2 linked regions of the Homo sapiens genome follow. The protein of the gene in region 2 interacts with the protein of the main gene of each other region in a pairwise test. Each region holds a gene or a part of one and is shown on either strand. Other genes may lie near its edges.

Region 1 (7,775 bases), on a different chromosome or scaffold from region 2:
AATTTTAGTGAGCCCCAATCAAAGTTTTGGCAGGGCCGAATAACTTCTGGAAGCCTGCCTTTTCCAGGTACTGAAGTGACATTTATGACCCATCCCTCCATCTTCAAAGCCAGCAGTGCAGCATTTTCAAATCTCTCTCTCTCTCCTTCCGTTATCACTTCGCCTCTTGCCTTCTGTGGGTGCCTTCAGGACCCACCTGAATTTGGGATAATCTCTCCATCTCAAGATCCTCAACAAATATTTTTTGCATGAATAAATGATTTGTCTCTTCTGTGTACCTTGATCTCTGTGTAATTCTACACTTACCTTAAATAAAATTCTTAGTATAATAATTGCCATAGCTACACTGGTAGTTAGCATTTCCATTCTCCTTAACTGTCCGTCTTCTTCCTGGCTTTCTTCTCTATAGTAGCCTATGGTGCATTTGTCTATATTAACCAAACCTCGGGACTCTTCAAGCCTTTTGAACTTGCATAAACTGGACATGCTTTAACCACTGTCACAGAACTGGGACACAACCGGCCTGTGGATAGTTCATAAAATAGTCCTGAATGCAGTCTTACTGCATCAGATACTGTCTTCTCACATCTCTCCATGCCCCATCTCTGACCCACCAACCAGATGGAGAAAAGAGAGGCCCAGTTTGCTCCTGCTGTGGGCGTCTCCTTTTTCCTCTAATGGCCAAATGAAGAATAAGTGTCCGTTGAACATGGTGGGAATAACTGAGGAAATCCTGTATGCCTTATAATAGGAAGTTGTCACTAGTTAAATAAAGTAGAACTGGGAGTAAGAGACTGGTGCAGGAGACAGAAGACACTGTTTTAACAATGCCTTCAACTTTGCACTTTATATGCCCTATGATGTGTGTAAGTACCTGCACTTAAGTGAGAATCAAGTCTTCCAAAGTCTCTTCAGGGCTGCCACAGTAAGGAATACCTTGCCTTTCTGGAAACAGCTGTACAGCAGTTATATTCTTTTGACTGCATTGAGATGGGAATGAATGTACACTAGTCCAAGGGTTGTACTCTTCCCTTATTCTGACTCTCAGAGGCAGTATCAGGTTATACTGAGGCATAACCTGCCTGCTTAAGCTCTCCGCCTGAAGGTAGAGTTAATTTTCCTAGGGCCCAGAGCTGCTATCATGGGACAAGAAGAAAAACGAATGGCCTGTGATAAAGGGAACTTTGAGAATATAATAATTGGTTTGCCATTCCTGGGATGGTAGTCATGGAAGTGTTCCTAAACTTGTTTTTCTCATTGATTTTTTTCAGTTGAGGTATACTTTATATACAGTGAGATGCACAGGTTGTAAATGTATCCTTCAATCTGTTTTGAATAATGCAAACATCTCTGTAATCCATGTCTTTATCAAGATCCAGAAAGTTTTCACCACCTCAGAAAATTTTTTTGTGTACCTCCCCAATCAATCTGCACATCCTCCTCCATGAAGCAACCACTGTTCCAGTTTCTGTCATTGTAGTTTAGTTTTATCTATTCTGGTACTTTGTGCAAAAGGAATCATATAGTATGTGTGCTTTTGTGTGTGACTTCCTTTACTTAGCATGTCTATGAGGCTCATCCATGTTGTCACAGTATCAGTAGTTCCTTTTTATTGCCGACTAGTATTCCATTATATGAATAGGACACAGTTTGTTTATCCATTTTCTTGTTGATGGCCACCTGTGCAGTTTCAGGTTTTGGCTATTAACATTCTTTTTCAAGGTTTTGGTTCTTTTTCAAACTTTCTTTCTTCTTCTTTTTTTTTTTTTTTTTGTAGACACATATTCCCTTCTTTTAAATACTTAGGAGTGGAATTTTGTTATAGACTGTGTGTGTGTTTACTTTTTAAAGAAATTTCCAAAACGTTTTTCATAATGATTGTGCCATTTTACATAGAGTACTTCTAAACTCTTATTGTCTCACATAGAGTAGAAATTGTGGGACAGGGTGACATCCAGTCTGGTTACCTTTAGCTATTGGGACTCTAGAGGATAATTTCTATAATTTTTAGAGAAGCAAAGGAATTTCAGTGAGGAAAGGATTGTAATAAAGGATCTATAAGTGTTATTTAGTCCCCTACCTTTTTGCAAATATGTATTCTATCTCTGAAAAGACACATAGACCCTGGCACTTCAAGAACAGTGGTCAGTCACAGTCTCCTTTGATCACGTCTATTTCCAATGAGAAGACATCAGGGGCTCTGGACCTATCAAGGGGATTTTTTTTGAGTCTCCCTTAACATGGACACAACACAGAACACGGGCACTAAATACCGTAATGGAACTATATTCCAGAAAAGGGAAGGCTGCACTTCTTTGTTTCAGTCTTTGTACATGTGTATCTTGTTCATGCTGCATCTCTTTCTCTCCTATACTCTCTTCAAGTATGGAGTATTACGTCTTACATTTTCCACTTTGTGTTTCAGGCCAAAGAAGCCCTCGAAAATACTGAAGTTCCTGTTGGCTGTCTTATGGTCTACAACAATGAAGTTGTAGGGAAGGGGAGAAATGAAGTTAACCAAACCAAAAATGTATGTGAGTTGAGCAGTATAATTGCAAACATACAGTAGTGATGGGTGGACTGGAGAGAATTTACCACAGTTGGTGTGAAGGTGAGACTGAATATAGTCCCGTAGCTGCCAGTGGTGGGTAGCTTTTCTTAACGTCTCTCTTTTTCAGTATCATTTTCTTCCTGATTTTGAAAGTGATACATGTTGATTTTTTTTATTGTGGAAAATTCAGAACAATTTAATGAAGCCATAAAATCTTAGTGAATAATTTTCTGTTTCATAGAGTTTTACTCTAATGCTTGAGTGAAACCCAAGAGGGGATTTTATTTCATCAGAATGTCAGCATGGAAGAAACAAGTCTGTCTCTACTTTAAGCCAATCTAATATATGAAATTTTCATTTTATAAAATAGGTCAATTTAACTCATAATACATTCCTTTTTTAGTACCTTTAAATAATATTTTCATCCTAGTAAGTTAAAAAAGTATCCTCAATGTATAGCTTTGGAGGGAGGTATGAGGATTATATAAAGGAAGCTATTCCTTTATCAGATAATTCAACAAAATAGGGTCTTCAACACCAGCTGCCTCTGTAGCTACATGTAGCATGTACATTTTAATAGCTTGTATGACTTTTATTGTGGTTAGGTTGGGAAGTTCATGGTTCAAGGCAATGCTTCTTAAACATGGTATCACAATAGTGTGTCATGATAAGTATACTTGGGAAGTATAAGTAAACTACCAAATTTTATGATTACAAAAATTCCTAGGTGGACTCAAAGATCACTTATACCTGTAATGCCATTCACACAGACTTTTATCTTGTCATATGATTTTGGGAGCCAGAGAATAAGCTGGTGTTGATACCAGGGCTGTGGGAACTAGTTCATCTATCAATCACATCTATTGAAAAGAAAACTGATATTTAGCAAAACACATGTAAAATAGGAATCCAGATTCACAAATCATTTATTTACTTATTTATTTTTAGCCATAAAATAGAACAGGATTATATTTTAATACGTAACTTCTGTACAACCAAAAAAATAAAACACCACAGTAAAATAAACTGGAATAAACATGGTATTTCATTTGCAATGCTTGACAAAATGTTCACATCCTTAATCAGAAATGAGTTCTTAGAAATCAGTAACAGAGAGACTAATATTACAAGGGAAGTGAAAATAAAAGGAACAGAGGAAAATGAAATAACAACCAATAAGGCTACATGAAGATGATCTAACTTAACTTTAACAGAAGAAAAAAGCAATTTCTTTGTAACATTAGATTATCAGTGATTAAAAATACTGATATCTAATGTTTGAACAGTTTTAGGGAATGGGAAACGTTCAAACACTGGGAAAGCTTACATTGATTATAGGAAATTTACTCAAAATGTAGATTTTGCATATACTTCGCCCTAGCAGTTCCAATCAATAGGAACTGTTCCGACAAAGTAGTTGGACAATTCAGATTTATATATAACCATGTTCACTGCATAGAAAATCTGTAGTTAATATGTCAGCCCCCCAAAAAAACTTTTTTATCAATTTGCTTATGAAAAATAGTAGATCGAAGTGTAGAATTAGAAAGAAAAAAGACACTTAAATAAAAATATAGTATTTCACAAAATTCTTTGTCCTTTGAATTCTTGAAAAAGACAACTTTTTAATGAATCAGTTTTAAATTTACCCTGTAATAAGTGAGAAGCATGAATATATGTAAGTCATACTTTTAATTTTTATTTATTTATTTATTTTTTTTACTATGGAAATGCTTTAATAGAGGTGAACACACAGCAAGAACAGCAAGTGCCCACACAGACATGACTATCACAGAACACATTGTGGGCAAATGAAGAATTCATACCACCCCCGCCCTTAACCCAGTAACAGAAGGCTCTACGCCCCCATTTCCTCAGTCCACTCCTCAGACTCTCCCTCCTCCTCAACAGTGGCATCCTGATACTGTTGGTACTCTGATACCAGGTCATTCATGTTGCTCTCGGCCCCAGTGAATTCCATCTCATTCTTGCCCTCGCCCATGTACCAGTGCAGGAAGGCCTTGCACCTGAACATGGCTGTGAACTGCTCTGAGACGTCTCTGAGCAGCTCCTGGATGGCCGTGTTGTTACTGATGAAAGTGGTGGACGTTTTTAGTCCTGCGGATGGGATGTCCCAGAAAGCTGTTTTCCCATTGTAGGGGATCCAGTCAGCAAAGTAGCTGCTGTTCTTGGTTTGGACATGAAGCATTTTCTCCTCTACCTCCCTCATGGACATCCAGCCCCTGAAAATGGCAGCCTCTGTTAGATAGAGGCCATACTGGGGGTCATAGGCAGCCATCATGTTCTTAGCATCAGACATCTGCTGGGGGAGTTCAGCCACTGTCAGGGCCTTCTTTGTTGTTTAAATGCTCATTTTGAAATACCTTTTTAAAATTTCAAATACAGAAAGTAGAAGCAGTTCTATCTCATTTCTCTATGCAGAACTATTAAAATTTTGCCATATTCTTCCAGACAGTTTTCTTTCATATAAATCATGTAACAATATACAAATATATACAGTCTTTTAATTTTAACTCACATGTGCAATAATTTCAAACAATGTTAAAATAATTACCATTATAACACTGAGAAGTATTATAACTGCCAGGGTAGTCATTCCCATATAGAATTAACATTTTTAAATTAGCCGTTACCTTTTCAGTTAGAAAAAAACAGAAGCATGTACACATACCTCTGCAAACAATTAGCTGATGTTTGTTGAAAAATGACATAATTTTAAATATCAATTTAAAATACTGTAAAACATACAAAAATTCTTTTTGAAAAAGATGTTTTGAAGAATTTTTAAAAATGTTTTAATTACATTCATGTTGAATCACAAAGCAGTTATTAAGAGGATATTAAAACATGAGATAAGTAATAAACATAATACAGCAATTAATGAATGTATAGATACTTATTTAGGAGTAGAATTCTGTATTTTAAATCGTGGTCAAATTTTCCAATTTGCATTTTGTGTATGATGTCTTAAGATGAGAACTTTGACTGTCCTAACAATACCCATCTAACCCCATCCAGTGACCGGGGTTTCTTCTATATGCTGAAATTAACCTGGGTTTATTTTGTTATTCCGTGTCATAAAGAAGATTACTCTATAACTACAGCATAGAAAGACTCTTGACCCCAAATGAGAAGACCTGAGTTCTACTTTTGGATCTGATACCACCACCACTACCCAGTCGCCACCACCACCTCCTCTCCCAGCTGTATGTGATTAACACATGCCAGCTTTGCTTAGCTTCTTTTTCTTTAGTAGTAAGAGAGTTGACTGAGATGATTGAGTTCAGCAATTGTTTATTGAGAGCTGTAGGGAGATTTGATTCCATAATTCTAAATCTGATTTTTTGAAAGCACCTAAGTTGGGGAAACCTTTTTTTTTTTTTTTTTTTTAAACTCTCCACTTAGTTTTGGTGTGCAGCCAGGTTTGGGAACCTCTTCTGTAAAGTACCTTCCATCTCTGGTAATTAGTTCTGTGATTCACCCATGTAGCCCCTTGGCCAGCTCTGCTCCCATCTGCCTCTAGCTTCCATGGCATCTTGGGCCACTGTGCTAGCACTTTTCATACCCTGCCCTATCTCACAGGTAAATGAGCCCTACCAGATTTTATGCTTGTTGAGGACAGAGACTTTTTATCCTACACAGAATTTATTTAGCCCAGTGGCTTGTGCATGGTTAATACTCAGTGTAAATTATTGATAAATACTATTGTCATGAATATTATAAATAATTATTCCATATAGAATCTATGATTCACTTTAAGCTATTTTAGTAAGGGAGAAAGAAAAGGAGACAAGAGCTAGCAGAGTACATGTGTAGTATTATGTGGCACCATGCTTCATGTAATTCAGATTTATAAGGTTTATAAGTGTAGATACCAGTGTATACCATTTTACATATGGGGAATCCTAGACTTACAGAAGTTAAGTTACTTGCGTAAGTCCACATAATTGGTAATGTCACTGTCAAAATTCAAATTTAAATGGAGTCACTTCCACATGCTATGTGATTTCTCCTATCCTCTACTGCTTCCCATGAAGTGTCTGAAACCAATACCAAATCTCTACTTCTCTAGAGTCTTCCAGTATATAAAACCTCATTCCCCAAAAGTGTAAGAGATGACATTCCAGTGAACTTAATGTAGATTTGCTTGGAGTGAGGTCAGTGACAGCCTTGAAAATATATTTGAAACTAGAGCACAAGCTTATGAAAATTTTGCTTCCCCTGAAATATTCAGAAACCATAGACTTTATCTTTTTTTCTTTGTTTTTTAGACTTACCTTCTCCATGGCATTTTAATTGAAAGAGTTTTCCCTAAGGTACTTAGGTACTTAACTAAAAATACAGCATGATTCCTGTGGCATCTCTGATTAGATATCTTTCGCAAGTGAGGTTATGGTACTTGAATTGGGGAATACGTTGTCCACTGCTAAGGGTGTCTTGAAACTGTATTCATTAAAATATTGGCAGAAAGGATAGGCGCATATTTTGTACTTAGTTTTTGTATATTTGTAAAATAGTAGTCACATGAAGCAAACAGCATCAGTGCAAGCCCCTTTCTCTTTTCAGGCTACTCGACATGCAGAAATGGTGGCCATCGATCAGGTCCTCGATTGGTGTCGTCAAAGTGGCAAGAGTCCCTCTGAAGTATTTGAACACACTGTGTTGTATGTCACTGTGGAGCCGTGCATTATGTGTGCAGCTGCTCTCCGCCTGATGAGTATCCTTTGACTTCATGAGTTAATGTATCGTACCATTCGTGTGAACAAGAGAGTGGCCAAACACGTAGCCTGTTTTCCAAAATATGAAAACACAGACTTAGGAAACACCTTGTAAAATATAGTGTGTCTTAGCCAAAAAAAAGAAAAGCTTTTTAAATAGTAAAATGACCTATTTCTTTTCATATCAATAAACATGGAATGATTAAACAAATAATCTAGAGAAAGAAAATATTAGAACTGTCTTAAACAGTTATATAAAGGTAAATCATAAATTAAGTTGAAGTGGATTATAAAACAGTTTGCAAAGGAAAAGTCCTAAAGAATATGCAGCTAAGTTTTGCCTTTGGATAATGGATTATGAGTGGTTTAAATTTTTTTTTCTCTGTTTATCTGGTTGGTTTGTTTGCCATGAATACTAATGTATCAAACATTATCAGTAAAAAGTAAATAAGAAGTAAGAAATCCTTTATGATATTCTGATTGTA
Region 2 (7,775 bases):
AAATGCTTGCAGAATTAACTATACAACGACTGTGGATTTTATGCCGTCATACAGTATAATGTACCTGTAATCATCATTGTCTACATTACATTTAAATAAAATTTATATTTTTTTTTTGTTTCTGGTAAAAAGAAGCATGTTACAATTTTCCCCCCCAATTCACATAGGACTCTAAGAACATATTTTAAATCAGTGCTTCCATACAGGAACGAAATCCACTATTTTAGAATTCTAAATCTTGTTGAAAAGCAACTTTATCTGAAGAGTAAACAAGAAGATTCAAAGTTAAGTATCAGTGCAGTCCAGAGCCCCTAAATGAATAAAACTGAACGTATCTTAAAAATAGGATTTGCACACCAGTAAGAGACTTGTTTACGATTCTGGGGAGGAGGGAAGAAACTGTAAGAGGGAGAGAAAAGGGAAGAAAAACAAGAAGAAAAATAATAGGAAAAAAAAAAAGAAAGAAAGTTTGTTTAGCTCAAAGTCAATGCAAACATAATGCAACTCGTAATCAAGCTGGGTTCATGCTGTTCCAGCAGGTATTGCGTGGAAGGCCTCATCACCAACAGACACAGATTTCTGAGGCTCCATACTCACCAGTGAGTTCTTCCAGAGCAGGCTGTCCAGTCTTGGTGAAGTGGCTGGGCTCCACGCTCACACCTGTTGAGCTTGACTCGGCAGTAACATTCCCTTCAGTGTCCGTCTGAGACCTTCACACACAAACCGAAGCAGACACACTTGTCATGAGAGGCAACTACCACATCTGGACCACTGTGGTCTAACCACAGCCCTCACCATCACCTCCTGTAGCAAGAAGCTTCAGAACAGAGTGGACCAGCAGACTGACGCTAAATAATTCATTAGCCGTATGTGGAGCAATGTCCTAAGAACAGAGAGAGCCGCTGAACTGTAAAAGATAAACTTTTCATTGCCCAGATGGAGGGTCTGCAATCCCTCACTGGGGAATGCTTCTCTGAACCTCCGTCAGGATGCTAGGTCTAGCCAGACACATGCTGGAGGGTACGGGGTGATTTGAATAATTTAACCTATGCCAAAGAACAGCTTCTAAGTAACCAGCCATGCCAACAAGTCAAACATAAAGATGACTCTATTAACAGCTCCCCCACCCCAAAATTCTCCTGACATGGTTTTCTCTATAAAGGTGACCATAAAACCAGTCGGAAGTGGGTGCCAAGCAGGTGTGTTTGCCCTCCAGGTCTCTGATTCAGAGCTTAGTTCTTCTGACATGAAAGGTCTCATTGATCATTATTTCAACACTTGACTGAAATCTGTACTTCCCCAAACCCTCTCCATGCCCTTATTTGTCAAGCAAATTGAAGCAACAGCTTCATGCAATGTTTTCTTGTCACAGCTACCTCTGCTCATTCAGGCATGGCATGCAAATGCATAATTACACTCAGATGCATGACCCTGCATGTAACATTATTAACGCACTGGCATGCTGAACTAATTCAACCGATTTCACTACCTGTGAAGAAAACGTTTGCCCAGAATGAGAATGGACCACGGGGGATGTACTGATAAACCTCAAGTCATCCAACTGTTCTTCCCTCCTTTGTTCTTCCTACTGAGGCCATCGTTCTCAATTCTGTTATCTTTACCTTTAAAGGATTTCATACTCCCTGTGCTCCTTTCACCTCCAGCCAGGGTCCAAGCCCTCATCATCTCTGCTGAGGCCTTATGAGTACTTTGAAACAGGTACCTCACACCTAGAGGTTACAAATGGCAGCCCGGTGTGGAAACCAGCCCAACTTATTCCTACTGGTCTGCATAATATTTTAAAGTTTTAAAATTAGTTCAACATTTAAAAATCGGGATATTTCACAATAAATATCTGCATTTCTGCCTTCGTCCAGTAAAAACAATAAAGCTTGGAAAGGACTGTCTTTGTTATTGCAGATCGCCACCTGCTGGTGCCAAGTGGTGGCTGCACCCTCTAAAGAGGCGTGGCTCCCTCTGCCACAGGCCCACTCACCCTGAGCCACCCATCTAGATGACCATTTAGAGGCCAATTAGGCATCTGAATCTGTGATCTCCATTCTACACTCTTCCTAAGTTTGGTCTACTCCCCACACGATCTTTCATTGACTTTTGTAATACTGACGTGATGACATCACTGTCTTCGGTGGTTTCCATTACCCACAGAATAAGGTCTAAACCCCTTATTGTGGTAGATGATGGCCACATTCTTCCTTTATTTCCAGCCCCATCTCCTGCCTTTCCAACTCTTTACATACAACTCTACTATGCTGCACCCACATGTGGCTTCTCTCCACATGGCTTTAACAGGTTTATCTTTGCAGTAACTACAACCTCTCTGCCTAAAGGCCCTTCTCCTCCTTCCTTAGTTCGCTGCTAATCTGTCTTTAAGATGCAGCTTCCATGTCATCTTTTCCTGAGAGCTTTCCTTGACTCCTTGCCAGGAGTTCCTACAGCACTCTCCTTATTCTCTTGTTGGCTAAAATGTGATCCTATAGCACTCTCCTTATTCTCCTGTTGGCGAAAATGTAAATCTTTCCTCAACTAGATTGAGAGCTCTTCAGAGGCAAAGGTTAGTTCAAGTTCATATGCTACACAGGCAACGCAAGAAGGGTGTGTTGACTGGATAAATAAGAAATGTTTAAGTCTCAGAAGATGCTAGGTACTAGAAGGAACATTAGACTTGGAAGTCTAAATATTCGACTAGCTCCAGGTCTAAGATCTATAACTTGTTAGCCATGCAAAACTTGAGTTGTCACTCCACCTCTTTGAATCTCAGCATCCTCATCTGTACAATGGGGATAATAATAGCAATCTCCTCTGGTTCTATAAAAATGAAAGGTGATGTGACACACAACTCTTAGTAAACTATAAAGTGATAAAGTGATAGATGAATCCACTGTTACTTCTGAATTGATAAATATAATTCATTCTGAGTGATTTTTAAAAAAATGACCCATCTTCCCTTTACTCCTTGGTAACAACTTTAACATGGAGAGGTTTTGGTGGGCGGGGGGGGAGCAATTATAAGTTATATATAGTGAACCATAAGCTTGAGGGAGAGAATTTTAGAGCAGAAAAGGAGAATAAACCATTTTATAGAATCTAATCTAATCCAATCTTCTCATTTTCCAGATGAAGACAATAAAGATAAAGTGATTTAGAGTCAAGACTGGTGGTTAAGAGCCTGGTCTCACTAGTTAGACAGACTTGGCTTTTTGGTTTGTTTGTTTTTGAGACAGTCTCGTTCTGTTGCCCAGGCTGGTGTGCAGTGGCGTGATCATGGCTCACTGCAACCTCCGCTTCCCAGGTTCAAGGGATTCTCATGCCTCAGCCTCCGGAGTAGTTGGGACTACAGGCGTGCACCACCTCGCCAGGCTAATTTTTGTATTTTTAGTAGAGATAGGGTTTCACCATGTTGGCCAGGCTGGTCTTGAACCCCTGACCTCAAGTGATCTGCCCACCTTGACCTTCCAAAGTGCTGGGATTTCAGGTGTAAGCCACCATGCCCAGCCTACACCTGGTTTTAAACATGAGCCCCTCTAGTCTAGTTCTGTGACTTGGGGCAAATTGCTTAATTACCTCTAAGCTGCTAGCTCATGGAGGTGTGGGAAGAATGAAGTGAGCTAAGATGTGGAAAGCCCTTAGCGGACTCTGTACCCACACTCGATCAATACCTGTTCCTGCAGCCAGTGCCGAAGACCTCAGAGGGCACCAAGGGCTGATAAAGGACAGGGCCCAGGTGTCCTGATTCGTATCCTGGTGCTCTTATTTCCAGCGTCACTTCCCAGACTACCCTAAAGATGAAGGCAACTCAGAGGGGACAGAAGGACGTTAGTTACCCAGAGTGGGCATTAACGTAAAAACGGGGCTAGTCAGATCCACATCATAGACGTTTTCCTCTTCCTCCTCTTTGTCAGACATTTGCTTTTTATCATTAAGACTTTTTCTTCTGATAGAAAAGCTTGAAATAAAAAAAGGTTATATCTTTTATAATCTTTCAAATGATTATAGCGAACAACAAAAAAAGAAGGAATGGGATTGATGGTGATCAAAGACTGTCATATTTTAATTTTGAAAATGCAAATTGAGAAGCTGTGAATCCTGAATATGTATTACCTTAAGACTAATAATGCTATTGGAATTATAAAAATTTCATATGGAGCTATTTAGTTGCCTCCACACTTCAGAGAACAGTTCATGGCTGGGCGCGGTGGCTCATGCCTGTAATCCTAGCACTTTAGGAGGCTGAGGAGGGTGGACTGCCTGAGCTCAGGAGTTCAAGACCAGCCTGGACAACATGGTGAAATCCTGTCTGTATTAAAATTAAAAAAAAAAAAAAAATTAGCCAGGCATGGCGGCATGCACCTGTAGTCCCAGCTGCTCAGGAGAGGCTGAGGCAGGAGAATTGCTTGTACCTGGGAGGCAGAGGTTGCAGTGAGCTGAGATGGTGCCACTGCACTCCAGCCATGGCGATAGAGCGACACTCCATCTCAAAAAAAAAAAAAAAAAAAAAAAACAGAAACAAAACAAAACAAAAGCCGTGTATGTAGACCAGCTGAGTCATTATCTAAGCCCTGGTGCTCTCTCAGGATTGTGAGCTGAGCTGATGACTTGATTCAATAAAATGAGACCTTCTCCCAATTAAAAAGATTGGTATGACCCTCACTGAAGGAGAATGCAAGCAGAACAAAAGGAAGGAGTGCAATGCCTGACATTCCTTTGCTGGCCTGGTGCTGGCTGGCTTTCCTTTGAAAGCACTTAAGCCAGTCCCTCCACCAGCTATTGGCAGGAACTGTAACAGAGACCACTAGAACACAGCTCAGGAGGAAAGAGGGAATATCGAATTCTTTGGGGAATCATACAAACATAGCAAGCTGAAAGTCTGGGCATGCACCTATGCACCTGAACAGGTATGTAAATACGGGTATGCACATGTGCCTTTGCATTTTATGTATGAATGTATACTTGTGTCCATGCTTATATGTGACTTTTAATGTGTGTCCACATGTATGGCTGTATGAGTGTGAGTGTACAGCTGTGCATCTGTATGCACTTGAGTTACAACTGTAAAATACGTGTCTAGAATGTGACACTTGATCATTAATCCTCTTTTGTGTGTACAAGTATTAGTTATCCAATTGTGCAATGTGGCCAAATGCACTGCTCATCTCCAGCACAGGATCGAATCAGGCACTGTCAGTGAAAGCTCTGGGAATGATAAGAACTTTAAGGGCAGGGGTTGGGGAGCTTCCATCTGCCTGGAGTGGACTCATCCATGTGTATGACGTGGCCCCTGAATCCCATGTGCCTCATTCAGCAAGGGGTGTGGTGTAGCCTGAGCAATGAGCAATGTCGCTGACCAGAATCACACAGAGCAGCAGCACCACTGTGTGGACTGGCTCCACACAGTCTCCCATGGTCCTGAGGATGTGCCATCAAAGAGACAGGGGCTAGGGGACAGATAAAGACAGAAGGATCCATCCATCTCCACAAACACCCAGGCTTATCTCCTCAGAACATGAGCTCTTGTTCTTCTAGACCAGCCCCTCCCCTACCATTACTCTTCTCCCCAATGTCCCTCTCCCTTCAGAAAGCCCCAGCACTCAGCAGGGACTGTGAGGATCTGGATGTTCAAGGCAATCCCTGCTATAAGAAATCTTAGTTATTGAGCCAGGTGTTTATTATTTTATTTATTTTTTAAGTATGTTGGGATGTGTTAGGACTAATGCTGGGGACTGTCGGGTGACACCAAACCGCCCCCACCCTCATATTTAGGCCTTCATGCTTTCTGCTCAGGGAAGCTGCTGCTACAAGGCCTGGGGTCCCCACTTTCCTATGCATCCTGGGATCAGCTCACATTTTACTTCCCTTCTTCAGCTTTCTCTGTTCCTTCCCCAACCTGTGCTGTATGAACTGCTCCCTGGAGCACATTGTGTCTGCTTCTCTTAGGAGTTCATCACGTGGTTTCTTAGCTACTGACTTAAGTATTCCTGGAGCACAGTCTAGCTTCTGCCCTTACAGACCCGGAATCCACTATAAAGGAACTTTTACCCAATGTCCCAGGCAGCACAGGTGGGTGGCAGCTCCTACCTGTACAGGAAAGGTGCAACCGTGGCAGTGTTGGGATGGTTGTATTGCTGCTGGGGCTGAGGTAGCTGAACACTGACGGTATTGCTTCCTGTGGTCTGGGTGGTCCCGACAGACCCACTGACAGTCTGGCTGCTGATGCTGTGGTTCAGGGTGGTCCCTCCTGGGCCTTTTCCTTCTGAGGACGCCAGGCTGGAAGAGGAACTGGAGTGTCTGCCGTCCAGCTGGGGCTTCTGCTGGGGGAGTCCTGAGCTCAGCTTCCCACTCCGGCTCCGCTCCCCTTCCTTGGAAGGCGCTGGGGCACTTGGGGATTTCCCGGGCATGCTTTTCATTCCTGGTTTTGGTATTCCACTGTGGGAAGGGGCCATGGGCTCCTTCTTGGCACTGTTGAGCTTCCCCCCTTTGGGGATGAAGCTGGCAATCTTGGAGGACTTTTTTGGCATCTCGGGCACAGCTGCTCCACTGGGGTCTTCTTTTGGCTCCTCCTTGAGGTCCAGCCTCTCCGTCACAGAGGCTCTCTTGGCAAGGTCCTTGCTTTTCTCCTTATCCTTCTCCCGCTGTTGTTTCTCCTTCTCTTTCTCATTGCCTTTCAGAGAACTCTTCTTGTTGGTCAGTGCCCGGCTAAAAGTCCTCTGGGCAATGCCCTTGAGTGCAATCTTGGGGCTGCTGGAAGCAGGGCCCACGGTGGTGAGCATGCGACTGGCGGCCTCCAGCTCCTCGCTCTCTTCGAAGCTGGGCAGAGTCTCCAGCCGCTCACAGCTTGTGTCCCGGGACCCCGGCCCCTCACCTGCCTTTGAGCCCCCTTTACTGTTGAAAAGTTTCAGCTTTTCCAGCATGGACTTCTGATTGTTGGGGGCCGGCTTCATGGCTTCAGGTGTGGGCCTGGGGGCCTCAGGCCCAGGAGGCTTGACCGAGAGCATGGATACCGTGGCACTGTGCTTCACGCTGAGGGATTTGCTGCGCCAAGGCTTGGTGGCTGCACCGGGCTGCGGGATGGCCGAGGAGGTACTGCAATTAGTAGGGGTGGAGCTGCTGCCGCTCTCCAAGGAAGCAGGTGCATTGTCACTCATTCCGGGGTGGGAGGAGGCTGAACTTGCCAAAGGCTCTGCAGAGACAGAAGAGAGGAGGCCTGAATCATACTTGTTGACCTGCACTGAAGACCAGGGAGGGTCAGCCATGGCCACACAACCAATCACTCCCAACCCAAATGCCGTATAGCTCCATTGCCCACTTTGTGGATTATCTGTGGTTAGGTTTTAATTTCTGGCTTGACTTCCTCCTGCTTTCCATACTGCACAGTTCACATCCCCCCAACCCCATCACATTTTGGTGGCATGTGCCACGTGAAAGCATGCAGGTCTTAACAAATCTTAACAGACACCTGCACCGTTAATACAGCCAGTGCAGGAGAGAGTAGGAAATACCTACCGTTTTCAATTATTCATCCCATAGCCTGTTTCCCAATTATGGGAAAGAATCAAGAATTATCCAACTTTAAGCAAACAATGTATCAGAGACATTAAAATACAACAATTACAAAAATAGAAAAGAAGGAGAAACCATGTAGAATCTTTAAAAAAGAATAATTACACACAAAAGTTGTTAAAGCCTATTAAAGCATGTAAGTTTTTCCTATGCTGGCACTTTTTAAAAGTTGCAAATGGCTGGGTGCAGTGGCTCACACC

What was found.
Region 1: the proteins of NAV2 (region 2) and ADAT2 interact in binary tests that used the Homo sapiens proteins (3 or more experiments, as listed by UniProt).

Annotation. Positions count from the first base shown.
Region 1 is NC_000006.12:143,433,345-143,441,119, reverse strand, and holds part of ADAT2 (tRNA-specific adenosine deaminase 2), read left to right. Parts: exon of another isoform or gene 1-67; intron 68-2,425; coding exon 2,426-2,530; coding exon of another isoform or gene 2,531-2,534; intron 2,535-7,138; coding exon 7,139-7,289; intron 7,290-7,775. UniProt on the Homo sapiens protein: Probably participates in deamination of adenosine-34 to inosine in many tRNAs.
Region 2 is NC_000011.10:19,932,596-19,940,370, reverse strand, and holds part of NAV2 (neuron navigator 2), read right to left. Parts: intron 7,196-7,775; coding exon 6,094-7,195; intron 711-6,093; coding exon 598-710; intron 1-597. UniProt on the Homo sapiens protein: Possesses 3' to 5' helicase activity and exonuclease activity. Involved in neuronal development, specifically in the development of different sensory organs.